Regions from separate parts of the Homo sapiens genome. Here region 2 is linked to region 1. Evidence: fine-mapped expression QTL. A gene starts in region 1. The other region holds a variant in brackets. All regions are shown on one strand. Distances are from middle to middle. Region 1 holds the start of AMDHD1 (amidohydrolase domain containing 1). Region 2 overlaps AMDHD1 (amidohydrolase domain containing 1).

Evidence for each region. PIP is the estimated chance that this variant, and not a neighbour inherited with it, causes the effect.
Region 2: its variant is fine-mapped to the expression of AMDHD1 in stomach (GTEx, PIP 0.97).

The regions. Positions count from the first base shown.
Region 1 is chr12:95,935,370-95,952,353 of GRCh38, reverse strand. It overlaps AMDHD1 (amidohydrolase domain containing 1), which reads right to left and starts at 9,023. Exons shown (of 9, transcript NM_152435.3): 1 at 8,819-9,023. The coding sequence starts at 8,955. CCDC38 (coiled-coil domain containing 38) reads left to right here and starts at 9,740. Exons shown (of 16, transcript NM_182496.3): 1 at 9,740-9,923; 2 at 15,831-15,881. The coding sequence starts at 15,845.
Region 2 is chr12:95,962,344-95,974,489 of GRCh38, reverse strand. It overlaps AMDHD1 (amidohydrolase domain containing 1), which reads right to left. Exons shown (of 9, transcript NM_152435.3): 6 at 12,011-12,135; 7 at 8,711-8,804; 8 at 7,982-8,142; 9 at 5,770-6,734. The coding sequence ends at 6,647. It overlaps HAL (histidine ammonia-lyase), which reads left to right. Exons shown (of 21, transcript NM_002108.4): 21 at 118-1,828. The coding sequence ends at 258. Among named protein-coding and RNA genes, the nearest start is that of AMDHD1, 25 kb to the right of the region's middle. RefSeq lists enhancers at 3,094-3,739, 3,740-4,385, 7,854-8,338. The variant C/T (reference allele first, on the strand shown) is at 4,322.

The DNA.
Region 1 (16,984 bases):
TCATTTTCAGCAAAGATGCCAAGAACGTACATTGGGGAAAAGACAGTCTCTTCAATAAATGGTGCTAGGGAAACTGGCTATCCATATGCAAAAGAATGAAATCAAATCTAAATGGGTTAAAGACTGAAATCTAAGAACTTAAACTATGAAACTACTCAAAGAAGACCTTGGGAAAACTCTCTAGGACATTGGTTCAGGCAACAATTTCTTGAGGGATACCCCACAAGAACAGGCAACCAAGCCAAAAATGGACAAATGGGATCACTTCAAGGTAAAAGCCTTCTGTACAGCAAAGAAAATAATCAACAATGTGAAGAAACAACCCACAGAATGGGAGAAAATAATTTGCACACTATCTAATTGACAAGGGATTAAAAACCAGAATATATAAGGAGCTCAAACAGCTCAATAGGAAAAAACCTAATAATCTGATTAAGAAATGGACAAAAGATCTGAATAGACATTTTTCAAAAGAAGAGATACAAATGGCAAACAGGTATATGAAAAGGTGCTCAACATCAATGATCTTCAGAGAAATGCAAACAAAACCACAATGAGAGATCATCTTACCCCAGTTAAAATGGCTTTTATCCAAAAGACAGGCAATAAAAAATGCTGGCAAGAATGTGGAGAAAGAGGAACCCTTGTACACTGTTAGAAATGTAAATCAGTACAGCCACTATGGAGAGTATGAAAGTTCCTCAAAAACTAAAAATAGAGCTACCATATGATCCAGCAATCCCACTGGTAGATCTATATGCAAAAGAAAGGAAGTCAGTATATTAAAGAGATGTCTGCATCCCATGTTAATTGCAGCACTATTCACAATAGCCAAGATTTGGAAGTACACTAAGTGCCCACCCACAAATGAATGGATAAAGAAAATGTAATACATACACACAATGGAGTACTATTCAGCCATAAAAAAGAGTGAGATTCTGTCAATTGCAACAACATGGATAGAACTGGAGGACATTATGTTAAGTGAAATAAGCCAGGCACAGAAAGACAAACTTGGCATATTCTCATTCATTTGTGGGAGCTAAAAATGAAAACAATTGAGCTCATGGAGATAGAGAGTAAAATGATGGTTACCAGAGGCTGGGAAGAATAGAAGGGGAGAGGAGAAAAATGGGGATTGTTAATGGCTAGAAAAATATGGTTAGATACAGTGAATAAGACCCAGTATTTGATATCACAACAGGGTGACTACAATCAGCAATAATATGTTGCACATTTTAGAATAACTGAGGGAGTACGATTGGAATGTTTGTAACACCAGGAAATGATGAATGCTTGAGATGATGGAAACCCCATTTACCCTGATATAATTATTACACATTGTACGACTGTTTAAAATAACTCATGTACCCCATATATATGTACCCATGAAAATTTACAATTAAAAAAACTTTAAACGTCAAATATATGTAGCAGACAATTGCCATTTGTTCCCCAAGATCAATGTTCCCTTTTTTACACTAGTAGAGCCCTAAATTTTAGCTGGACACATGATGACCCAAAATACAGACTACATTTCCCCACCTCCCACTAGCCAGGTGTGGCTATGAGACTAAGGTCTAGCCGGTAAGATTGTCTTCTCTTCCTATTCTTACTGGCTGGAATGCAGACACCACAACTAGAGATGGGGTGGCCATCTTGGGTCATGGAGTGAGTGTAAGAAAGTGGGCCATGCATGGGAGAGCAAGGCAGCAGGGGCCTGGCTCCTAAGGACCCCATGGAGTATTGCAATCAACTAGCCCTGCATTCGTATGTCTGGATTTTCACATAGGAGAGAAATATACTTCCATCTTGTTTCAGCCACTATTAATTTAGGTCTTGGTCACTTACAACAAATTCGTATTTCCAACATGGAGATTGAGGGCTATAAACCTGAGAGCTGGAATGTGTTGTGAAAAGCAATTAGGATAAGGGATTCCGAACTGGGACAGAAGTGGTTGGGGTAACCTAACAAAATGTAAGAGTGGAAGAGCAGAAGAAACTGGATGGAAAGAGAAGATGTTATGATAGGAAAAGAAATAATGATTGTGGGAGATTTGGGGAGGATAAACTTAGGGTGGAATAAGAAATTAAGTCTTGAAATAGAATTTAGTATCCTGATTAAGACAATTCTTCATCACTAACAGCTTTTATCTGGCCCAGTTAGATAATCTACCCAGTGTGCAGTGAATCTGGTGGTGGAAAGGACCGGCAGGATTAGAAATTGACCCTTGAATGGGAAAGAACAAAGAGAATGCTCTTATGCAAAGAGTTAATGACTGACACTGCTTTAAGAGAGGTTGTTTTAACAAAGTCAAACCTAAGAAATAAATCTCTAACATTCTCCGTCTGTGCAGGAGGTGAATTTTGAGGGCACTGGGTCCTCTTCCTGACCCCACTAATCCCATGCTTATCTACCTTTCAACAGTGTGGTTCTCTCATTCATCTGTGGATGTACCTATGTTTGAACAAAGGCTTATGTTCCTTTGTTGAGGACATAATGAGGGCAGTTATTGAAGGAAACCAACAAAAAGCATTCCCCCAAAAGTGTTTTTTTAAGGTAGTCATTAAAATTACAAAGATACATATTACTGCTATGGTGAGATTTTCACTATTTATGACTAAGTGAAAAAACCCGAATACAAAACAATATGCATAGCTTCCTTTTCTAAAGCATGCATTTTTATGTGATTCTATTTGCATAGGAAAACATCTGAAAGCAGAAGCACTAAATGTTGGTATTAGTTCACCTAATGATGGGGTTTGAGTGACTTTTTCCTTTTTGTTCATCTGTATTTTCTTTTCCTACAATGAACGTATATCACATATACTTTTTTAGGGGATACAAATAATAGGCACATGTGGTTTTATTTACTTTGTATTCTGAGAAATTTAGGAAGAAAAATTCTGCAGAGTCTTCTGAAAGTAAAGCAAATTAGCAAGCAAGACCCTACTTTAGGAGCTAAAGTATAATTATAATGAAAACAGTAATGATGATGATTTAAGGAGGATGATGCTTCTTTGAGTGGCTCTCAGGGTGCTTTGTGAAAATTTAGAATTGGCACATACACTGTCTCAGTTTCTAAAACCTAAAAATTGGTCTTGTTTTATAGTAGATAAATCTGACACCTCTCCCGATCCTCCCATTGGTTCAGGCACCCCTCTGTGCAGTCTCTTTTTTTTTTTTTTTTTTCTTTTTTTTTTTTTTTTTTTAATTTATTTTTTTATTGATAATTCTTGGGTGTTTCTCACAGAGGGGGATTTGGCAGGGTCATGGGACAATAGTGGAGGGAAGGTCAGCAGATAAACAAGTGAACAAAGGTCTCTGGTTTTCCTAGGCAGAGGACCCTGCGGCCTTCCGCAGTGTTTGTGTCCCTGATTACTTGAGATTAGGGATTGGTGATGACTCTTAACGAGCATGCTGCCTTCAAGCATCTGTTTAACAAAGCACATCTTGCACCGCCCTTAATCCATTTAACCCTGAGTGGACACAGCACATGTTTCAGAGAGCACAGGGTTGGGGGTAAGGTCACAGATCAACAGGATCCCAAGACAGAGGAATTTTTCTTAGTGCAGAACAAAATGAAAAGTCTCCCATGTCTACTTCTTTCCACACAGACACGGCAACCATCCGATTTCTCAATCTTTTCCCCGCCTTTCCCGCCTTTCTATTCCACAAAGCCGCCATTGTCATCCTGGCCCGTTCTCAATGAGCTGTTGGGCACACCTCCCAGACGGGGTGGTGGCTGGGCAGAGGCGCCCCTCACCTCCCGGACGGGTCGGCTGGCTGGGCGGTGGGGGCTGACCCCCCCCCCACCTCCCTCCCGGACGGGGCAGCTGGCCGGGCGGGGGGCTGACACCCCCACCTCCCTCCCGGACGGGGCGGCTGGCCGGGCAGAGGGGCTCCTCACTTCCCAGTAGGGGCGGCCGGGCAGAGGCGCCCCTCACCTCCCGGACGGGGCCACTGGCCGGGCAGGGGGGCTGACCCCCCCCCACCTCCCTCCCAGACGGGGCGGCTGGCCGGGTGGGGGGCTGACCCCCCCACCTCCCTCCCGGACGAGGCGGCTGGCCGGGCGTGGGGCTGACACCCCCACCTCCCTCCTGGACAGGGCGGCTGGCCGGGCGGGGGGCTGACCCCCCCACCTCCCTCCCGGATGGGGCGGCTGGCCGGGCGGGGGGCCGACCCCCCCACCTCCCTCCCGGACGGGGCGGCTGGCCGGGCAGAGGGGCTCCTCACTTCCCAGTAGGGGCGGCCGGGCAGAGGCGCCCCTCAACTCCCAGACGGGGCGGCTGGCCGGGCGGAGGGCTGACCCCCCCACCTCCCTCCCGGACAGGGCGGCTGGCCGGGCGGGGGGCTGACCCCCCCACCTCCCTCCCGGACAGGGCGGCTGGCCGGGCGGGGGGCTGACCCCCCCACCTCCCTCCCGGATGGGGCGGCTGGCCGGGCAGAGGGGCTCCTCACTTCCCAGTAGGGGCGGCCGGGCAGAGGCGCCCCTCACCTCCCAGACGGGGCGGCTGGCCGGGCGGGGCGCTGACCCCCCCACCTCCCTCCCGGACGGGGCGGCTGGCCAGGCGGGGGGCTGACCCCCCCACCTCCCTCCCGGACGGGGCGGCTGGCCGGGTGGGGGGGCTGACCCCCCCATCTCCCTCCCGGACGGGGTGGCTGGCCGGGCAGAGGCGCCCCTCACCTCCCGGACGGGGCGGCTGGCCGGGCGGGGGGCTGACCCCCCCACCTCCCTCCTGGACGGCACGGCTGTCCGGGCGGGGGGGCTGACCCCCCACCTCCCTCCCGGATGGGGCGGCTGGCCGGGCAGGGGGCTGACCCCCCCCACCTCCCTCCCGGACGGGGTGGCTGCCGGTCGGAGACGCTCCTCACTTCCCAGATGGGGTGGCTGCCGGGCGGAGAGGCTCCTCACTTCTCAGACGGGGCAGCTGCCGGGCGGAGGGGCTCCTCACTTCTCAGACGGGGTGGTTGCCAGGCAGAGGGTCTCCTCACTTCTCAGACGGGGCGGCCGGGCAGAGACGCTCCTCACCTCCCAGACGGGGTCTCGGCCGGGCAGAGGCGCTCCTCACATCCCAGATGGGGCGGCGGGGCAGAGGCGCTCCCCACATCTCAGACGATGGGCGGCCGGGCAGAGAGGCTCTTCACTTCCTAGATGTGATGGCGGCTGGGAAGAGGCGCTCCTCACTTCCTAGATGGGATGGCGGCCGGGCAGAGACGCTCCTCACTTTCCAGACTGGGCAGCCAGGCAGAGGGGCTCCTCACATCCCAGACGATGGGCGGCCAGGCAGAGACACTCCTCACTTCCCAGACGGGGTGGCGGCCGGGCAGAGGCTGCAATCTCGGCACTTTGGGAGGCCAAGGCAGGCGGCTGGGAGGTGTAGGTTGTAGTGAGCCGAGATCACGCCACTGCACTCCAGCCTGGGCACCATTGAGCACTGAGTGAACGAGACTCCGTCTGCAATCCCGGCACCTCGGGAGGCCGAGGTTGGCGGATCACTCGCGGTTAGGGGCTGGAGACCGGCCCGGCCAACACAGCGAAACCCCGTCTCCACCAAAACCAGTCAGGCGTGGCGGCGCGTGCCTGCAATCACAGGCATTCGGCAGACTGAGGCAGGAGAATCAGGCAGGGAGGTTGCAGTGAGCCGAGATGGCAGCAGTACAGTCCAGCTTCGGCTCCGCATGAGAGGGAGACCGTGGGGAGAGGGAGAGGGAGGGGGAGGGGGAGGGGGAGGGGGAGGGGGAGGGGGAGGGGGAGGGGGAGGGGGAGGGGGAGCAGTCTCTTATAATAAGCCTGCATGCACACATCTCTCTACCTTTGTGCTTACCATATTGTATTATAATTATCTTTTCATGTGTCTTGTTTCCCAGTAGACTTTGAGCTCTTTGAGGTCTGAACCAGTCTTAGTCATTTTTGCATCCTCTACGCTGAGCACAATCTAACTACTCAGCACATATTTGTGAATGAATGAAAATGTCCTATTTTAGGTTCATTGTCCACCTGACAGTTTAATTGGCTTCTAGGAAGGAAAATATAACACCCACCAATTTTTCCTTCAACATTTTCCATTTTTGCCCCTCCTCTGAAGTGCTAAAACAAATGGTCCTTGTGTATGAATCTATATTTTAATTCCTGTTTGTTTTGTTCATTTAGACATTTTCATCTAGGTTTTAGCCTTTGGATGGGACAATTGTCAACTGGATGACAGTTTGTGCTTCTTTTCCACACCTGGGAGCCTCTTCAAGATTAACTGCAATCTACACACACACACACACACACACACACACACAGAGAGAAAGAGAGAGAGAACTTAATTTAAGAATGAGATACCTTTAGAGACCTAAATGAATGAACACAATGGTGGAATTTACACCCTATGGCAGACAATCACTGAGATATTTATTTTTAGGAAGGGGGAGTTTCTGGTGTCCCTCAAACCATATTCTTTTCCAGGACTCATTTTATATATCTATAGCATATAGGGGATTAACTATTAGTTGATCTTACTGAGATTCATTCTAATCAGGACACACCATGGTATGTATATACTTGTTGGGAAAAAAAAAAACACACACTGTTAAAATCCATCCAATTCTGGGCTTTGAAATGGAACTTTCTTCCACTTCTCTGTGCTTTTAATCAGTACCCCTCTCCCTATACACACTCACACTCACAGCCTGTGTTCTTCTTGTCTACCAAAAGAAGAGCAGGATTAAGTTGTCCTTGAACACACAGGTTCTGCATAAGGGAAGTGATGTGAAAATTTAAGACAATCACCTAAATAATTCACCCTGAAAACACTTTTACCTTAAAACATTCAGATAATGAGGTGGGAGATATATTTCAAAGCATCTCAAATAACCAGATAATTATTCCAATTCTATACTTGATTTTTGCACCAACCTAATATATAAGACAGTGATGATAGTAAGTGAAAATAAAAACAACACCATCCTGTACCGAGCTAATCATATTTGAATGGCAAAGTTCTCAATATTCTTGTAAATTTATTTCATTGTAATAAATCCAACAAACTGTGAGAACAATGTAGCAGACTCAAATGAAAAAGCCCCATCTTCCAGACCACAAGTCAGCTCCCTCCTTTTCCTTTCCCTACTTTTTGTGGTTTTGATGTGAACATAGAACATGTCTTGGAACCCAGGACTTCATGTTGGTGCATTAGTATCATTTTATTTATGTATTTATTTATTTATTTTTGAGACAGAGTCTCGCTCTGTCACCCAGGCTGGAGTGCAGTGGCGAGATCTCAGCTCACTGCAACCTCCGCCTCCCGGGTTCAAGCGATTCTCCTGCCTCAGCCTCCCGAGTAGCTGGGATTACAGACGTGCGCCGCCATGCCCGGCTAATGTTTGTATTTTTAGTAGAGATGGGGTTTCATCATGTTGGCCAGGCTGATCTCGAGCTCCCAACCTCAGGTGATCCACCTGCCTCAGCTTCCCAAAGTGCTGGGATTGCAGGCGTGAGTCACTGTGCCTGGTCGCATTGATATAATTTTTATAAGATACTCCAGTCCCAACCCAGGTACATATTTTTCAACTTTCTAAGCAAAATTTTAAATAATATTTTCATAGTAAATTGGGAATGTTTTCATCCCTTAATTAAAAATAAACCAGTCAAGCTGGGCGTGGTGGTTCACGCCTGTAATCTCAGCACTGGGAGGCCAAACCAGGTGGATGGCTTGAGCCCAGGAGTTCAAGACCAGCCTGGGCAACACAGTGAGACATTGTCTCTACAAAAAATACAAAAATTAGCCTGGCGTGGTGGCGTGCACCTGTAGTCCCAGCTGCTTGTCAAGCTGAGGTGGGAGGATGGCTTGAGCCTGGGAGGTGGAGATCGCAGTTGAGCCTGGGAGGTGGAGCCAAGATCATGCCACTGCACTCCAACCTGGGCAACAGAGCTAGACCCTGTCTCAAAAAAACAAAAAATAGGCTGGGCGCAGTGGCTCATGCGTCTCAAAAATAAATAAATAAATAAATAAATAAATAAATAAATAAATAAATAAAATTAAACCAACCCACAGTCCCTTAAAAGCTGGGCTCTTGCACAACCCTAAACTGCCTCAGATAAGCCGTGGTCAGTTTGTGAGACTCATTGATCGTGTGCAATTGTGGTCCCATGGCACGCTTTGGATTCAAATTCTCATCCAACTTCCCTTGCTACCCCAGGTCGCCCTCAAACTTTGTTCTTTTATTCATATCTGGCAGGAAGCTCAGATGAGTAAGAGAAATATCTTGTTTTCTGATGGTCAAATCTTGATTTATTATCACTCAGGGCCATTATCGTCTAAATGTTCTCCGTGGTTCTAAAGCTTTAGTGTACGAGATCACGAGGATGTGAAAGGTACTTTTGAAAAATTCAGGTCTCAGAACTCCAGCCCCAGTGATGCTGATTCTAAAATTCTAGGGATAGGGAGTGGGGGACGCAGGTGGAATCAGAAATCTGCCGTAAGAATAAAATAACCACAGGCCACCCTGACAAAGGTGGTCTTCTGGCCTCCCTTTAAGAAGCACTGGGGAGGACCTCAACCCCTTCTGATGGTTGGACAGTGATATTTTACCAGCAGAGGCAGGACCCTGATGCGTTCCAATGGGGTGTTCCTCTCTGAGCTCTTTGGACGGAATGACAACCCCAAGCAGCAGAGCGTGTTAGCAACAGGTACCCCAAAGGCTGGCTTGCCCGTGTATCTCTGTGCAGGGACGCTTTCACGGCGTTGTTTCCCTCCAGAGTGCACAGTGAGAGGAAGAGCGGCCAGCTCCGCCCGTGGCGGTCCCCACCCTGCGCGCCCGGCCACTTACTTGCCCACCACCAGGCTGGCGCCTTCCAGCACCGCCAGGCTGCGCAGCGCATCCCGCGCCAGGAAGCGCTCGCCGCGGGCGCACACCAGCACCACTTGCTGCGCGTTCTCCAGCAGGAGGCTGTGGCCGCTTGCCATGTCGCCTCGCGCCGAGGGTCGCCGGGAGGCCACCGGGCTCGGGCCACCGGCAGGACTCAGTGGAGGACGAAAAGCCGCAGCCTGCGCTGTCCGGGGCTGGGAGGGTGGGGCGGGGGCGGGCGCTCGCAGCCGCTGCCCTTTGCTCGCCTCCCCCAACCACAGCAACGGGGGCGGTAATCATTGCAAGAATGGCAACGAGTAATAAACCTGATGAGGAATCCTCTCTTTTTTGGTCGTCTTGTCCCATCCCGAGTAAACGAGATGGAGACTAGTGTCCCTACTTTTCAGATAAGGAAACTTAAGCTTGGTCACCCCGAGAGATCAAAGTGAGCTGTGTGGATCACGTGGTATGTGGAAGCGCGTCAAGGGTTGGCTGGGTGAGGGCACCCGGAGTGTTCGGGAGTGAGGGACCGGAACCTGGGGTAGAGCCCCGGAAGGGGGGCCATGGGGGAAACCTCTGCCCGGGGGGTTGGGGTGGGAGCCTGGAGATAGCGCTCCTGGAGAGGGCAGAGTAGGGGAAAGCTGTGCCCAGGGGCAGGGACGGGAGCTTGGAGGTAGAGCCCCGGGAGAGGACAGAGTGGGGGAAACCTCTGCCTAGGGTGCTGGGACGCGAGCCTGGAGGCAGAGCCCCGGGAGGGTACTGCGTGGAGGAAACATCTGCCCACAGGTTCTGGGGCGGGAGCCCGGGACGCGGAGGGCCGCGAGCCGAGGGAACCTGGGGGTGGGGAGGAGGGGGATGCGGTAGGGGAGGTGCTCCTGGGTCCGCGCGGGTGGCGGGTGCCCCGCACTTATCCGTTGGCCAGCTGCGTTCCGGGATCAGCTACCAGACGGTCCCTGAGATGACCGGGAACCGGGCTGGGGGAGGATAGAGCCGAGACTGGAGGATCGATTGGCACCTCCGCCCACTTTTCCCACAACGCCTTCCCGAACGATAGGTTGGAAAGGCTCCTGGATCCAAACTCGCTGAGGTAAAATAGGTTTCAGCTCAGTGTCCGCCCCTCCGCATGCCCCCTCCCACCCCTCAGCTGTGTCTGGTGGGCCTACAAGCAACTTGCGACCAAAATTGGAGACAGAATCAAGTTTATGGAAGATGGTCTGTGATTCTCAGCCTCGTCGCTTCCTGCTACCAATTGCTATGGAAACACTGCCAGGCCCAGGCTTTTGAGTCCTTAATTACTTGATTTCGTTTATTCATGTTTATCACAAGCTCTGTGTTAAGTCTTGTGGAACATACAAAGATAGGAAAGGCGCTTTCCCTGCCCAGTAAAGACTTTACAATAAAAGTGATAGATGTGGACACAAATAATATACTATAAAAGCAGACTAAGCCTGCAAACCCACAAAATATAAAAGTTAATTTAGTCTCATTAAAAAAACCTGGAACAGAAAGCAAACACTCCTTTAGATGACCACGATAAATAAGAATATAATTTAGCTTCATATTATGGCCTATAAAAGAGAGATCAGTTAGGAAAGAGAAAGATAAAAATTGGAAAATATATAGACAATGTGAGTGAAAGAGACCCTAAGGGTGGGGGGGAGGGGGCATCAGAAGATTATTCACAGCTCATATACACAATCACAAACAGGTTGTTTGTGTGTGTGTGTGCATAGCTTTTAAAAAGTTTATACATACATATATTTCTATGTCTTTAAAAAGAGAAGTAGAAATAGTGGGGAATAGAAACACATAAAGTCACTAATTCACAGAGAAATATTAAAATTTTCTATTATAAAATTTCTGCTGAAGACTTTAATCAGTTACATTTTGCAATTTTAGGCATATTTGCAGAACTATGCAATTGTATGTATAAAGGATGGGTTAAAATTATAGAAAAATAGGGTTCAATAAACTTGTCTTAGTCTGAGTTCTGTTTCCTATAAGCTGTTTGACCTTGGGGAATTTCTTTACAGTAATTTCTCGAAGCCTCGTTTTCTCATCCTCATCATAGGGAGAGCTGTTTCTACTTTATGGGCTTGTCTGAGTTTTAAATAAAATAAAACATAAATCACTTAGCCCAGTGCCCAGCTCTAAACAAGTAATAGGTATTATTACTATTATTCGTGTGTTTTAATCCTGCTATTTGTCTTCCTGGCCAATTAAGTTAAAGATTAGATTTCAGCCAATAGTATAGTTCCTCTCCTGACTTCACAGACCATGTACTTAAAGCTTGCAAGTTCTGGGTGAGTCTAAAAGAAATTATATTTCTTTTTCATAGGTATTTATGTTTGTGGGTGAACTGTGCATCTGATTCACAGTCCAGACAGACAACATTACCTGATAAGCTCCTGCAAACAGGAGGTTTGCAAAAGCAGAAAGGATGAGTGAATTTCTTTCCTTAGTTACTGTTCAGTAGTTATAGATGGATAAGGATGACACATTTTTCCTTGGTAATAACCAACATCCCGATAGCAGCTCTTATAAAATACTTTTCACATTATCTGACTTGTATATGCTGACTCCTTAACCCATCCTTCCTTCCTCTTGACCTCCAGTTTTTTTTTTTGTTTGTTTGTTTGTTTTTTTTCACTTCGCAAAAGGGGCAGTCAGAAATGTCAACAGAAGCGTCCATACTAAATAGCCTGACGCCAGCAGTGCCTTAAAGGTCAAGGTGAAAGTAATTTCCTCATCATTGTGCTGTGCTCTGACCTAGTCAGAAGCGGCAGCGTGCATCTAAGCAGGCCAAGGACCCAGTGGCTCCTGGCTTTTAGGTAAACAAAAAATTGCTAACTGTGATCTCCCCACACCATCCAAGGACACAGTTCACAGCCCCTTTTCCTAGTATTTGTCCAAGGTAGGCGGAGAGGAGGTGGGAAAAAAAAATGGAAGGGCATTGGGTCTGAGAGAACCAGTCTAAATCCTCATATGCATGTGAAGATAAACATTGCTTTTTATCTCACATTGAGATCATCTGGAAATTCGTTTTCATTGGGTTTTAGAGGGGGTTGTTGCAAAAAAACAAATAAACTGATTCGAATAATATCTGGTAGACAGTGTTATTATTCATTTTATTTAGAGTTGGTTTAGAAACTTAGGACTGGGCCTTATCAAATCCCACTCCTCTTTCCCCACTTCCCCTGGAGCTCAGAATGTTAAGACTCTACATGAAGCTGATTCAGGTCCCCCAGATTTGCACTGATATTGCTGGTAGACTCCTCTCCAATGACCAGGTTTCAAGAACTTTGATTGGGAGTTTCTTACAAAAAGTAGTTGTCAGTTATGCTCCCATTTCAAATGGCGGCAGTTGACAGAGTGGGCCAGAAAGAGGAAGGATCTGGACAATATCTAGTTTGAAAAAAGTATAAGGGATCACTTCTTCACAAGCCTACTATGAGCAGGCACTTTGCATATATTATCTGTGTTTGAAAATTGCACCAGGCCTGTAAGGAAGGTGTTATTATTCATACTTGATAGAAGATTCTACAGTGCATTAAGCATAATTCTCTAGACCCAAGAGAAAGAGTGGATAAGAGTCAGAGGCAGGAGTTAAACCTACCTGCCCCCAAAGGCCAGGGGTCTTTCCATAGTGCCATTCCTACTACCCTTGCAATGACACTTGTCAAGAGACCTGACTCAGAGACCACATATAATTGTACAGCTATTAAAGGAACACAACAATTAATTAAATCAACCAGCATGGGGTTCACTTGAAAGAACAGTATACATTACACCCATGTCCCTTTAGATATCTAATATATATCTCAAATTTCACATGTTCCAAAATGAGCCTCTGATCTTCCCAAGTGCCCCTTCCCCCACTGCCTTCTCTGTCTCCATTTATGGCAACTCCATCCTTTCTGCAATCAGTTCTTTATCTCATACTCCACATCCAAACCATCAGCCAATCCTGTAGACTCTACTGTCAAAACACATCTAGAATCGGACCACCTCTCACCACTTCCACTGCTATCCCAAGGAAGGGATAGCATTATCTCTTGCCTCCCAGTGGCTGTAGTCTCCTAGTAGATCTCCCTGTGTGACCCTTTTCCCTTTCTACAGTCTCTTCTCAGCTCAGCATCAGAGTGATTCATTGAATGGTTCCATTTCACTGAGAAAATGGCCTCCAGGGCCCTCGTGATCTTGGACTTCTTGTCTCTCTGGCTTCATCTGGGGTGCTGTCCCCTTTGTTCACTGTGTTTAAGGCCCACTGGTGTCCTTACTGTTCCTGAAACACACCAGGCACATTCCTCCCTCAGAGTGCACCTCTCCATGTGCTTACACTCCCATAGCACATACTATGCAACTGAGGCCATCCAAAGGCTGGACGTGGTAACTTACCTAACAATCCCACAAGGTAGATACTATTTGCATCATTCCTCTTGAAAGATGGGGAAATTGAAGTGTGAGGATTAAGGGACATAGAGAGAGTCTATGTTCTTAATCATTTAGCTTATGCGACCTCTAAAATGGATGGCTGGCAGTTATACACCACCATTTTACATTCCTGATATTTCTGAGCTTTTGATCTTTTTCATCTATTGGAAGTTGGATGTGAACGTGTATTTAAGATGTGAACTTTCAGGCATTTGCTATGCAATCCAATAACATTTTCCCTCTCTTTTGGTACAGAGCCTTTGTTTAGCCATCATGCTATTTTTATTTCGCACAACAAAGACATCCACTGACTTCAACATTTTTTCTGATTGGAAAGGGGACTTTATAATCCCTTCCTAACAATAACTGGTTCTGTTCCTCTCCCTCCCTTTTGTTCACCAACCTTTCATTCATCAATACAGGAATTCATGCATATGGAAGTATAGAAGTATAACAACATCTGGAGACTGCTGATTGCATTTACATGTTATATGAACTATATAATAGAGACAGAATAAGAGCAGATATCTGCTCTTAGCAATTGGTTTAAAGGAACAGAACTTCCAGTTTTTCTGTGAGTGAAAAAGTCCTTGAACCCATGGATAAAGATGCTCATTGCAAAAAGACTTTAAGGATAAAGGGAATGAGAGTGGGAAGGAGAGTGAATTTAGATAGATAGAAGGACCAAAGGAGTGAAAATGTGACAAGAAAGAGGTGATCAGAATCCTAAGAGTGGAGATGAGTACAGAGTGTAAAATTGAGAAAATCTACAAATCTTTAGTATTAGCCATCCAAATTCCAAATACTCATCAACCACAGGTTGTCACCAATTTTTCACCGATCTTTCTTTTCCCCCGTGAGAATGAATTTAATGCCTGTGAAAAAATGTTCAGTCATTTGAAAAAGTATAATGTCAATGTTATAGTTTTTATTCATTTTTTTCTCTTTTATAAGCTTTGACATAATTTTTTAAATATTTGTTTTTATAACCACTGGAACTAAAATCAGATGCTAATTAGTAAATATTAGCACATAATAGTTCCCACTTACTGAGCTGGTCTGTAAGCCAGGCACCCCACTTGGTTAAATCCATTGCCCACTGAATCCTCAAGAAAGCCTTAAGAGGTGTGTCCACTTTATGAAACAGGAAGCAGAGGCTCAGAGATGCTGAGTAATTAAGATGTAGGCTCCATGAAGACAATAGTTTTTGTTCTTTTTTGTCTTTTTAAAAATTGCCCTGTCCCCCACACGTAGAACAGTGCCTGACACATAGTAGGTACTCAATAAATGTTTTTTGAATGATACATGAACTTGCTCACACATAAGTAAATACCAAACCAAGATTCAAAAATCAGGCTTGTCCAAAGTCTGTGTTCTTAATCATCTGCTGCTCTGCTTCCGGGATATTTAGCTCTTATATATGGCTCTTTGAGATTCCTGAGGCACATATTTAAATGAGTAGCCCAAAATAGAATGTGTTGTCCATTGTTTCTGCTGCGGGCACATTTTTAAATATAAACTCCTGGGTGTCCTTTATCCCCAAAATGAATATATCTTTATTATTTTTCTCATTGTAACAGTTACACCAGCTCACTGAGAAATTTGAATGATACTCAAAGTATAGAAATCAGAACAAGGATTAGGGTAAGGCCAGTGAAGCTCTAGCTTCATGCATAAAATTTAAGGGGAAAGCAAAAACTCAGTAATCAAAATAAGCAATATTTTAATTCACTATTTTAAATATATAAATTAATGTAAAAAATTCATGATAAATGAAATAACAGAATTTTAAATAGAGACAAGTTCTGTGGGCCAGGATTTGGGTGAGTAGAGTGAGGCACTGGCTCTCAGGGTCACACAAGTACAGGGTCAGAGACTGTCCGTATTTACAATTTTGATATTTTGTTCATTATAGAATTTCCTGCATTTATTTGGAATTTTATAAAAATATATTGCATTAACATTTAATTTATCATAATAACTGAAAGTTGATTTTTTTGTTTTGTTTTTGTTTGTTTATTTTGGCAATCCTTAAGCTTTGCAGCTAAGATTGAGTGCCTCAATCACCTAACCCTAATCCCAAACCTGGTAAAAATGAGAGACTGCACCAAATCACATGTAATCAAGATTCATGTTTGATGAATGGCATTTCAAACACCTCTCAGATTTTTGCATGCATTTTTTAATCCACACTATCCCTACTCTTTTGAAATGTTTTGTTTTTTAACCAATACCATGGAGAGAGGTAAATAGTGACTACAGCATCATTTTAAGGGCCAACTGGAATTTATTTTATGGATATACCATAGTTATTTGGTCAACTCTGTATTTATGAAATGACATTGAACAAACATTATTGCACATGCTTTTTTGGCTGCTTGTCTGATTATTTTCTTGACATAAGATACCAGAATTGAAATTGCTGGGTCAAAGAGTATGTGTGTGCTCACTGCTTTTAAAAGCCATAAGGACTGTTAAGGAGTCATTGGCAGTTGAATTTAGCCCTTTTATATGATGTTCATAGAATTTTTAAAAAACGTATTTTTTTTTCTTTCAACAGGGCCAGGCAAGAAAATGTCCTCAAATTTATTGCCAACACTGAATTCTGGAGGTAAAAAGAAATCAATCAATATATTCTTGTTTGGGCCTGGCAGTGTTAGGCTCCATAACAGATTGTGAGCATAAGAAAAGGAGAATGTTACACCATAAATATAAAATGTAATGAGTTTATAAACTACCTGCAGAGAAGATTCTGTTCTACTTTTTAATTCAAAAAAAAAATCTTCAAATCAGAGGGTGCATTAAATTGTCATATTTAGCCAGATTGCCCCAGTCTCTCATGACAGAAAACAAGTAACTCAATTATTTGTCATAGTCAAGGACATACCTAACTAAACTTTATGAAAATCTGCCCTCTTCTTTCCTTTCCCACCCTTTCTCATCTTATCCTTCTGCCTATTTTTTATTTTTATTTATTTTATTTTATTTAATTAATTACTTTTTTTGAGATGGAATTTCGTTCTTGTTGCCCAAGCTGGAGTGCATTGGCGCAATCTTGGTTCACTGCAAACTCCGCCTCCTGGGTTCAAGTGATTCTCCTTCCTCAGCCTCCCAAGTAGCTGGGATTAGAGGCATGCACCACCACGCCCAGCTAATTTTGTGTTTTTAGTAGAGACAAGGTTTCACCATGTTGGCCAGGCTGGTCTCAAACTCCTGACCTCAGGTGATCCACCCACCTCGGCCTCCCAAAGACCTGGGATTACAGGCATGAGCTATCATGCCCAGCCTCCTTCTGCTTATTTATGAGCATACAAGGAATTAGTATTTATTGGTATATAAGGAATTACAATTTTCTCTTACAAATCTGACAAAAATTTAACATTTGGATAACACTAAGAGTTTGTAATAGGTAACAGGCACTCAGGCTCTCTATAGGCATTCTCTTTAAAGGAACATTTGACACTATTTGTATTTACAATGTAAAAGTTTGGCTGCAAGAGACAGAAAATATAAAACAACTGTGGCTTAAACATGATAGACGTTTGTTCTCTCTCAGGTTAAGTCTGGATACAAGCATTCCATATGGAGGTTCACATCAGGGGCCCAACTCCTTCTGGCCTGTTCCTGGGCTATGTTCTTGGTCCAAGACGGCTGCTTCCACACCAGTGATTACATCCATATTCCTGCCAGCCAGGAGAAAAGGGGAAGGGGGGA
Region 2 (12,146 bases), 25 kb before region 1:
AGCAGCTGTGTCTGGTCATGTATAGAGTATGTTTTGACTTCGGATGAAGTTGATGTTTAATAGCATGTGGAAACAATGTCGTCAATATTTCAACTTTGTTTTGTCCTTGCTTTTCAGGTTTGGGAAGTAGCTGCTCCATACATTGAAAAATACAGAATGGAGCATATTCCAGAATCAAGACCTCTTTCTCCAACAGCCTTTTCACTGCAATTTCTGCACAAGAAATCCACCAAAATCCCGGAGTCTGAGGACCTTTAATGGGCTTTGTCATGAAGTAGCAGATGAGAGGGCAGTCAGTTTAGCACAAAGCAATACTAGGCTGAAGGAGAGACCTGAGAACTTTCCTAGGTAGATCAATCCATTGTATCATTCAGTTCTTCTAAAGCCTACGTTGGTTAGGCTGATGGCAGTATTATAGTTGCTAAATTCAGCACTGTGTTCCTGTTGTCGTGGTTCAAGACCCACCAGGTATTTTCAGATTATAAAACTTTTCTTTCTTTCTTAACAGTTTCAACAGGCCACTCACTCTTAAGGGTGAGAAGAATAACCACAATTGTATGTGCCTGTTTTTTACTCTTAGCATTAGATGAATTCAAATTTGGAAACAGATTGATAGCAATTTTTTCTAAAAACATTAGACTTTTGTTAACCTTTTTTTTTTTTTTTAAATTTGCTTCAACAAGCTCTCCACCAGTTGACTTTCTTTGGCTAATTTTACTTTGCATGATATGCCTTAATATGCCTTCATAAATAACCATTTTAAGTCATAATTTGTCCTTAAGCTGCTTTTTTCTTCTATTAATTGGATCATAGTAAAGAGTAGTCAATAGGGTCTTCAGCTATTAATTGTAGAGGTGATTAAAACCAACAAGGAGTTTCATGTGCAAAGGAGATAAGGAATGAATATAAAGATTGCTATTTGGGTGGCTCTTATTAAACTGTGTATTTTGTACTTATCACTACACGTATCCCCCAAATGCTTACATGGGAGTTTGAGGTTAGTATTTTCACTTCCTTGGTGTTAGTACTCTATTCACATTCTTATTGTAACCTTCCTCATTTCACAGATAAGGAATCTTTGGGGATTAACCAACCTCCTTTCTGTAATGGTAATCATTAAAATAAGTCCTATTGATAAAGGTCAGATGGAGCCCTAGAGTGTATTACTGCATCTATTTTTTTCCCCGAGAAGATAAAGGACCTTCAGGGATGGCTTAAGTGTATCTGTCCAGATGAAGGATGGGTCACATGACCTCTTGGCTTCCCAAGTCTAAGCTCTGTGACTTTGCACCAGTGTGTGCATATATGTGCAAGGCCCTTCAAGTGGTCTGAAACCGTGGCTCTAAAAACCACAGCTGGTGGAGAGGAGGACAGACACACTTGCCACCTTGCCTACCTAATTGCCATCTAAAATGGGCCGAACAGTGGATTTCACAATAGAGTTTTCACCCTTTAGATTTACAACCTGTCAGGTGGAAACTGAAGTGAAAACTGCTGCACACAGCAATTCAGGGAGCAAAAAATGTGCTGAGGAGACTGTTTACCTAAAGGTTGTTCTTGGTGCTATTCCTTGTCAAAATGTGAACACACACAAATGAGGTTTGTGCATTGTCATCCGTGGGCTGCCATTGAGCCAGTAACCCCCAGTGGTCTCATGGTGCTCTTCGCTCCAGTTTGGGGAATGCTGGATTCTTTCAGCCCCTGCAGCCCTCCAGGTCAAAATGACACTTTGTCACTGAGTTTTCTACACAGCTCTATTAGTAACTGACAGCACACGCCTTCAAGGGAACTTCAAGGGAAACATGGAATAAACTAAGTCTCAATTGCCTTATGGTGTCGCTTTATTCTTAGGTATTTATAGCAAAGTTAAGCGCCTCTAACAGCAGTTAATCAAGCTTCTGAAGGATTCAGTTGACAGATGTCAACCGTTTTAAGAACAATATGCTTGACTCAGTACACTCTTTTTCCCATTGGCTAGCAACAAAAGAGTTGGAGGTATCAGGATTTCCTCCCCAGCCCCGCAGGCTCACCTGGTCTTTGTCACAAGTTGTCTCAGGGCAGCTGGAGGAGGCAAACCCTAAAGAACAAGGGCTTTTCAAGTCCCTGTTGTGCCACGTTCGCTAATGTCCTGTTGGCTAAAGCGAGTCACGTTCCAGGCCCAGAGTCAATTTGGGAGGGTAACACTCAAGGGCATGGGCATGTGATTTGACGTGATCCATGGGCCTGTATCTGACAATCTACCACATGCATAAAATCCCATCACAGGCTGGGTGCAGTGGCTCATGCCTGTAATCCCAGCACTTTGGGAGGCCAAGGTGAGTGGATCACGAGGTCAGGATTTCAAAACCACCCTGGCCAAGATGGTGAAACCCTGTCTCTACTAAAATTACAAAAATTAGCCAGGCACCGTGGCAGGTGCCTGTAATCCCAGCTACTCGGGAGGCTGAAGCAGGAGAATTGCTTGATCCTGGGTGGCAGAGGTTGCAGCGAGCCAAGATCGTGCCACTGCACTCCAGCCTGGGTGACAGAGTGAGACTCCATCTCAAAAAAAAAGAAAGAAAGAAAAAAAAGAAAAGAAAAAGAAAAAAAAGTCATTACAACCGGCAAAATTCAAAAGCAGATACATTTCATACTGCTTTAAACCTGTGTCTGATTTTTGGGTCTGGTCACTGGATTGCTTTTTATTAAACTTTATGGTTCTCTTTATGGTTCATTTTGCTTTTTTTTTTTTTTTTTTTTGAGATGGAGTCTCGGCTCTGTCACCCAGGCTGTAGTGCAATAATGCTACCTTAGCTCACTGCAAACCTCTGCCTCTTGCGTTCAAGCAATTCTCCTGCCTCAGCCTACCGAGTAGCTGGAATTACGGGTATGCGCCATCACACCCGGCTAATTTTTGTATTTTTAGTAGAGATGGGGTTTCACCATGTTGGTCAGGCTGGTCTTGAACTCCTGACCTCCAGGGATCCACATATCTTGGCCTCCCAAAGTGCTGGGATAACAGGCGTGAGCCACTGCTCCCAACTCATTTTGCCTTTTTGCTTACTTTTGTTGAGAGTATTAATTTATTAAATGTAAACATTGTAAATGTAAATGTAAATGTAAAAAATAGTTGGAGAACATTAGTTTCAGCCCAGAGGGTAGACTTCATTAGTCTAACATACAAAAGACAGTTAAATTACAATGCTACAAAGGCTATCATAGAGATGTGGGAATGTGGGGAAGGGCGTCCAGCTCCAGTTTCCCATGTAAGGAAGAGAAGGAAAGCATTCTGGGCAGAGGGAACCGTATTGCATGGCCCTGAGCAGCTCACTGTCCCCTAAGGAACAGTGTGAAGATTGGTGTGATTAGGGCTTAGAACTCAGAGCTGCTCAGACCTTAATGTGCATGTGAATCACCCGGGGCTTATTAGCATGCAGATTCGGACTCAGCAGGTCTGGGTCCAGCCAGAGGTTCTGCATTCCTAGCAAACTCCGTCAGTTGCACGGGCTTGCAGCACGCTGGCCTGGGAGGACTAGGGCAGTTTGGGTAGATGTCTTTTTCTGTCTTCTTTCAAAAAAGGCATGAATGCTATTTGTTTAAAGTGAGTGCCTCCTAGATGAAAAATCAGATGTGCTTCTCCTTCTTGTTTCTTCAATAGAAGAATCTAATCTTGTGTTGCTTGAGTTCCAGGGAAGACTCGACCTAACATTCCGTTTTGGCTTTTATGTGTATCTCCTGCGCCCCAAATGTTCAGTGCCTAGGTGACTGGTCACAGGGGAGCCATCACACACAGCAACTGTGTGCCCCCTACACTGTCTCAAGACTTCTTAAATAATCGCATGAGGTTCAGAGCTCCAGAGACCCCATTGTGATTGTGTCCGGAATTGGTGGGTTCTTGGTCTCACTGACTTCAAGAATGAAGCCGCGGACCCTCGGGCTGAGTGTTACAGCTCTTAAGATGGTGCGTCTGAAGTTGTTCGTTCCTCCCGGTGGGCTCGTGGTCTTGCTGAGCTCAGGAGTGAAGCTGCAGATCTTCGTGGTGAGTGTTACAGCTCATAAAAGCAGCGTGGACCCAACGAGTGAGCAGTAACAAGATTTATTGCAAAGAGCGAAAGAACAAAGCTTCCACAGTGTGGAAGGGGACCCCAGCGGGTTGCCAATGCTGGCTCGGGCAGCCTGCTTTTATTCTCTTATCTGGCCCCACCCACATCCTGCTGATTGGTAGAGGCTAGTGGCCTGTTTTGTCAGGGCGCTGATTGGTGCGTTTACAATCCCTGAGCTAGATACAAAGGTTCTCCACATCCCCATCAGATTAGTTAGATACAGTTTCCACACCCAGGTT[C/T]TCCAAGGCCCCACCAGAGCAGCTAGATACAGAGTGTCGATTGGTGCATTCACAAACCTTGAGCTAAACACAGGGTGCTGATTGGTGTATTTACAAACCTTGAGCTAGATACAGAGTGCCGATTGGTGTATTTACAATCCCTGAGCTAGACATAAAGACTCTCCCTTTGGGAGGCCGAGACGGGCGGATCACGAGGTCAGGAGATCGAGACCACCCTGGCTAACACGGTGAAACCCCGTCTCTACTAAAAATACAAAAATTAGCCGGGCATGGTGGCGCGCGCCTGTAGTCCCAGCTACACGGGAGGCTGAGGCAGGAGAATGGCGTGAACCCGGGAGGCGGAGCTTGCAGTGAGTCGAGATTGCGCCACTGCACTCCAGCCTGGGCGACAGAGCGAAACTCCGTCTCAGAAAAAAAAAAAAAAAAAGACTCTCCACGTCCTCACCAGAGCAGCTAGATACAGAGTGTTGATTGGTGCACTCACAAACCTTGAGCTAAACACAGGGTGCTGATTGGTGTATTTACAATCCCTGAGCTAGATATAAAGACTCTCCAAGTCCCCACCAGACTCAGGAGCCCAGCTGGCTTCACCTAGTGGATCCCGCACCGGGGCTGCAGGTGGAGCTGCCTGCCAGTCCTGCGCCATGGGCTCGCATTCCTCAGCCCTTGGGTGGTCGATGGGACTGGGCGCCGTGGAGCAGGGGTGATGCTCGTCAGGGAGGCTCGGGCCGCACAGGAGCCCATGGAGTGGGTGGGAGGCTCAGGCATGGCGGGCTGCAGGTCCCGAGCCCTGCCCCGTGGGAAGGCAGCTAAGGCCCGGCGAGAAATCGAGCACAGCGCTGGTGGGCCAGCACTGCTGGGGGACTCAGTACACCCTCCGCAGCCACTGGCCCGCGTGCTAAGTCCCTCACTGCCCGGGGCCAGCAGGGCTGGCCGGCTGCTCCGAGTGCGGGGCCTGCTAAGCCCACGCCCACCCGGAACTCCAGGTGGCCCGCAAGCGCCGCACGCAGCCCCTGTTCCCGCTCACGCCTCTCCCTCCACACCTCACTGCAAGCTGAAGGAGTGGGCTCCAGCCTTGGCCAGCCCAGAAAAGGGCTCCCACAGTGCAGTAGGGGGGCTGAAGGGCTCCTCAAATGCCACCAAAGTGGGAGCCCAGGCAGAGGAGATGCCGAGAGCAAGCGAGGGCTCTGAGGACTGCCAGCATGCTGTCACCTCTCATGATGACAACAATGTGCAATGTTACCCTTAACCTTCCAGTGAGGGGCATTTTGAGTTGCTTTATATTGACTACAGCAAAGCCTCATTCATTCAGGCTCTATTAAACTGAAATTAGTGATCACTTGGAGAGTTAATCTTTACTTCTCAAATCATTTCTTACCAAGTTTGGTAATGCAGTTGTGATTATAAAGATGATCGAAACACTTAAAAAGATTTCAAATCAACTTACATGGCTTTTAAAAACACCCATTTATATGTAAATAATTATCGACTCTTTACAAATAATTTTGTAATTTCCTAAAAACTCTAATAGACAACGCTGCTGATCTACTTCCAGGCTGAAAGGAAACAACAACAATAAGAGCGACAGCAAACATTTATTGAGAGCTGTAAAATGTGTTTCACCCAATTGTAATGTAAAGAATCGAAAATTTTAAAAAATTTCCAAAAAAATTACATGATTGTAGTTGGTAAAAATGCACCCATTTCAGGAAGGCCCCTGTGCCTGTGTATAAATGATGTGTCTTGAACGCTGCTGGGAAGCTCTATTGCTGAGATTGAGAAGACCTTAGAAACGGAAGGACACTCTTCATCAGAGGACATTAATTCATTTGACAAGCATCTAGAAAATGAACTACTTGGGGAAAGGAAATACTATTTGCTTAACAGAAGGCTATATTTTAGCTTCATTGGGGCGTATCACTTAGATTTCTTTCGATCCCTCAATGTTCACTAAATATAGTTTAAAAACTGAGATGTGAAATACAGACACAAAATGGAAATTTTAAGCCAAGCCTACTTTTCCCCACAAAGGCATTTTTGTGATACCCCACCATATTAATCTACAGAATATTTGTAACCAATATTTGTGAACTAATTGGATGTTTTGTGATTTTAATCACAATAGGTTTACCTGTTTATATGTCAAATGCATGTGTTAAATGAAAATAAATCTATCCCTTGGGTTTTTTGAGTGACTTAAAAAGACATTGAAGTACATTTAGGTTTAAGTGATATAATTCTTGTAAATATTAAGGTGTTTTAACTTTTAATATAACTATATTGACTTATTTCATATAGTCAAAAAGTCTTCTCTTTTCAAATCTATCATGTTTTATAGATGAGTTTTCCTTTAGCTATAACATATTCAATTAATTCATGATGGCCTCCGAACTGGTAAATCAAATGCTCCCATCTAGAAAAAAAAAAAAAAACAACAAATATTACTTCAATGTGTGCAAGTAAAAATTATTACTTTATCAATAAATGCTAATTTTAAAATGCATTCCCTACACATTTATTTACACCCAGTCAATGGTATTTGGGCTTTCTAAAAAACCGTATATAACTAACTGGTCTATGGTAAATCAAACATTGTTTAATAATATCATTTAAGTACTTGATCTTAAAATATTTGCTTCATTAAATGATACATAAATGTCACCATCAGCATTATATCCAATACAGGGAGTGGTTTCTGATCATGGAGAGAATTTTAAAGCAGGTGTCTCTGGAGGACTTGAGGTCCAAGGGCTGCAATGGGCTCGTAAGAGTCAAGTAGCCATAGGATTTACAACTTGTAGGTCTAGAACAGTAAAACCCTGATATGGTTTGCTGCTATGTGCCCACCCAAATCTCATTTTGAATTGTAGCTTCCATAATTCCCACATTGTGGGAGGGACCCAGTGGGAGGTAATTGAATCATGGGAGTGGGTCTTTCCCATGCTGTTCTCATGATAGTGAATAAATCTCACAAGATTTGATGTTTTTATGAATGGGAGTTCCCCTGCACACGCTCTCTTGACTGCTGCCATTTAAGACATGACATTGCTCCTCCTTTGCTTTCCGCCATGATTGTGAGGCCTCCCCAGCCATGTAGAACTGTGAGTCGATTAAACCTCTTTCCTTTATAAATTACCCAGTCTCGGTATGTCTTTATTAGCAGTGTGATAACAGACTAATATTACACTGGAGGCCCAGGTGGCAACAGACTATGGGTGGGTGAGTGATAAGTCACCAGGAACAAGAAAACTAAGTTTAAGCTTTTGGGAGCCAGTCGGCATGAGAAATCAGAGAGGGAATGAATCAGAACCAAAGTGAGAAGCCAGAGTTGGGAGCAAGTTGAAAATCAGAAGCCGAGCAGAAAAACACAAACACATGCCAGAGGGCACAACCCGGCCAAAGTCCAGGTAAACAGAGCAGAAATCTGGAAATCTACGAAAAATACCAGACAGATGAAGAGATCTTGAAAACTTGGTCTACCCTGTTGTTTAGGGTCTGTCAGTAGATTTGCTCTTTGGAAAGGGATCAAGATAGAGGGGACTGGATAGTGTCTGAGTCCAGACAGAGTCTGACACTAATAATTAGTGGAAAAGGGATTTAGGCCTCATCTGCATACTTCAGTGGGCATAATATAAAAGAGCTAAGTTGAAGCACACTCACCGGGATGAATTGATGATAATGAGATCTCCCTGTTTGCCAACTTCCAACGATCCGTGTGTGTGAGACTTTCCCAGTGCATAAGCTGCATTGATGGTGGCAGCGGCCAAGGCCTCAGGCATGGACATTCTCATGTTTACACAGGCCAGATGCATGACCATTGGCTAAGGCAGGAAGAGAAAAGTGTTGGAGGAAAGTGACATATGGCAACTGCAATTTAAAACATTTCTCAACACAGCACAACAAATAGAGGCAGTTAAAGGTATAGGAGGAATTGGCTCAGTTGCAATGGGAAAAATCTAAGTTTATACATAAAGATTCTTAGACTTTGGAAAAGATTACTTTATTATAGGGATTGCGTATTTAATATTTATTGACAACTTTTCAAGACCACTTACTGCACACAATGAAGTTCACTTCCATACTTACTAAGACCTCTTGGAGTTTATGCTATTCTCTGGAGAAAGGAAATGGGTTACTGTAAAACTACAATACTCAAAGCTGAATCAGAAAATAATGCATGTAGAAGCTTCTCTCCTCTCTCTATGCCTGCAGGCATTTATGTGGGACAGAAAAATCCAATTACACTGCTGTCTACCCCTTTTTTTCTTGTTTCACAGAAAAATATTTTTAGATTTTTTATACTGTTTTAAAAGCTAGTGAAATATTTTTAAATTATTTATATGCTTGGTAGATACTCTGCTCAGAAAGGTACATGAAAAAAATAATTACCATTGAAAAGCAATATGCATTGGGGTTGAAATCACTTCCCAGAGCAACTATTACTCCTTCATCTAACATCTTCCTGGCTCGAGGTTGTTTCAGTCTAAGGGGAGGAAAAAAATATGTCAGTCTCTAGAATGGGAGCTTTTGTAGAATAGCTGTTCAGAACAGAAGAGAACTTGAGACAGTCAACGCCTTCATATTCTGGAAGAAGAAGCAGAAACTCAAGATTAAATGATTAGTGGTAGAGTTACATATATAATCCAAGGACTCCTGATTTTTATCATTCTGCTTTTGCAGTTACTTAGATATGACTAACATTTAATTAATGATTGTTTATCTCATCCATCTTTTTACATATTAAGGCATTCTTGCAAAGGGAGGAAAATATAACTTACAAATGGTTTTGGAATTTAATAAGCTTTTTGGTGACTCCCAAATTAAATAATAAATGAGGTTACACTATGCTTTTTTTTTTTTTTTTTTTTTTGAGATGGAATCTCTGTCTCTTGCCCAGGCTGGAGTGCAGTGGCACGATCTCGGCTCACTCCAACTTCTACCTTCTGGGTTCAAGCGATTCTCCTGCCTCAGCCTCCCGAGTAGTTGGGACTACAGGCACCCACCACCACGCCCAGGTAATTTTTATATTTTTAGTAGAGATGGGGTTTCACCATGGTGGCCAGGCTGGTCTCAAACTCCTGACCTCAGGTGATCCACCCACCTTGGCCTCCCAAAGTGCTGGGATTACAGGCATGAGCCACTGTGCCCAGCCACAATATGCTATTTTTATTAGTTTCCATTTTGCAATTTCCTATTCACATCTCTCCCTTTGCCCTCTTTTTTTTTTTTTTTTTTTTTTTGCCTCAAACATCTCTGTAGGTCCTTTAAAATCTTGAAGGCCCAAGAATTTAGTGTGTAAAATGTTTATACTTCTTCCTGGATTAGGCATCCCCTTGACCTCCCTGGTGAAATATTCTTTATTCTTTAAGACATATCTCAAAAGTGTTACATCAAAAATAAACAAAGCCTAAAAGCTCGTTAAAGCAATGAGGACAGATTTAATTTGGGAATAACAGCTGCAATAGAGAAAGAGTCCAGCAGAGATAATTCTCATCCTAGAGTCACTCCCAGTCTATGATCGATCATTTGTAGGACCACTTAAAATGTTTTTCAACAACGTATGAGAGGAGGTGAGTGAAGCAGAGACAGAGAGTGAGGAAAGGGTACAGCTTCAAATGTCCCTGCAAGTCATTTGAATGGCCCTCCCCCCCTTCCATAAATACTTAGGGGTAAAAGAGGAAAAAGTGAGGCTGTAAAAGTATTAGGGCACTCCATAAAAACCAAGGTGAATATTTCCTGAATACATTTAAATATTACATGCAAATTTACATAAAATACATGATTAAAGCAAGCCCTTAAGTAGCATAAGGCAATGGTTATTCTGGAAATGAGAGTCAAGAGAGGGTTCAGGGGAGAGCAGGGGGCCCTGCTGGTCTCTCCTGATGCAGAGATCAGAAAAATATAGAAACGAGAAGCCAGAAAGCAGAGTGTGGCCTTCACTTCGACTGCCCCTGTGGTCCTAATAGGAGGCTAAACCTGTCTGTGGCAATGGCAGATGACAGCCTCCGCTGGTATAGGAACAAAGTTCAGACTTTTAATGCTGAATTGCCCTCCAGTACCACAAAGTCTTAGGCTTTTGCTCCATGTCAAGAGATTCAAGACTAGTTAAAGAAAGGCCTTTTTTTTTTTTTTTTTTAAGATGGAATCTCACTCACTCTGTTGCCCAGGCTGAAGTGCAGAGGTATGATCTTGGCTCCCTGCAACCTCTCCCTCCTGGGTTCAAGGGATTCTCCTGCCTCAGCCTCCCGAGTAGTTGGGACTACAGGCGCGCGCCACCATGCCCAGCTAAATTTGTATTTTAATAGAGACGGAGTTCAACCATGTTGGCCAGTCTGGTCTTGAACTCTTGGCCTCAAGTGATCTGCCCACCTCGGCTTCCCAAAAGTACTGGGATTACAGGCGTGAGCCACTGTGCCCAGCCGAAGAAAGCCTTTTCTTTCCAAAAAAATAAAAAACAAAAAACTTATTTCTTGGGTGGTGGAGACAAATATTGATTGATGACTTAGACTGATGACACTTGAAATGTATAAGACGTTGGTCATACCAAGAACCGTTATTGATATTTCCTGATTATAGTCTACATTGTGTTTACTCTTTAAGAGAATAGTAATAATAATAAAAATGTATAATATCATACATGTGCATATAAAATCATAGTAGATTTGAGAAAAGCACTGAAGTATTCCTTTCTTCGCCCTTCTAAAAGTTACTTGGAGCCTGGTCTTACCTAACCTCAGTACAATTCATGTCTTGGGCTGGATAATTCTTTGTTTTGGGAGCTGTTCTGTGCAATGAGGACTGTTTAGCAGCAACCCTGGCCTCTACCCACTAGATGCCAGTAGCATCCCCTAGTTGTGACAACTAGAAATGTCTCGAGACATTGCCAAATGTCCCCTGAGGGACAAAATTACCCTGGGGTTGAGAACCACTGTCTTAACTGCAGAATCACTCCCCATGAAAAAGACCACATGTCCTAGCTACACAGAAAGCACCTAGTCCTAAGAGAAGATAAACTTCCTCTTGACTGCTGGCCTCCCAGACCACAATCTTGGATATCATATAAGTAAGTGGTACAATGGGAAGTGTCAGAAGACCTCAGATCTCATATTGGTTAGAATCAGAGCAACAGTAATAACAGACGAACTAAGTATATTCAATTCATAGACAGCATACAGCAAAATATCTGGGGAGATTTTATAAAATATATGTCTCCTCTTTCCTCCCACCCCCAGGATTTATAAAGATTTATGGCAATTATGGTACCCACTAACATCCCTTTAGAAAACAGCTCATGCAGATTCTGAATACTGCTAAATATCTTTAACATCTTATGCATATATTTAAAAGTATAGCACCTATTTCATTATTTACTAATTATAAAAGTAATGCATAGTAATTCTTTTTAATTGAAAAATTCCAAAATCCATGAAAAAAAAGAAAAAGAAAAAGAAAGCACCATCTTCCTCAATAATCCTGCCACTCAAAGGCAATCTGGGTCTAAGTTCCTTCCTCAGAGAAATTCGTTTACGAACATCAGTCCAGGGTTGGCATCTTCATTAGCTGAGTTTTCTTCATCTGCATTTTTAAGGGATTTGTAAGGGCAATGAAATAATGTCTGGGCACTTTGGACGTCTGTGTCTTCACAGCTTGTACTTGCAGCTCTTGGTCTGGGGTGAGAAACGACCTTACCTCAGCATGTAGGCTGTGGTGGGCAGAAGGATGGCAGAGCACCTGGCCGTTGCCATGGCAACGATGCCTTCATCACTCACTTCTTCCAGGTGGCTGATTGCCTGCGCTCCCAGTTCAGCCCCAAGCTAAGGAGAAT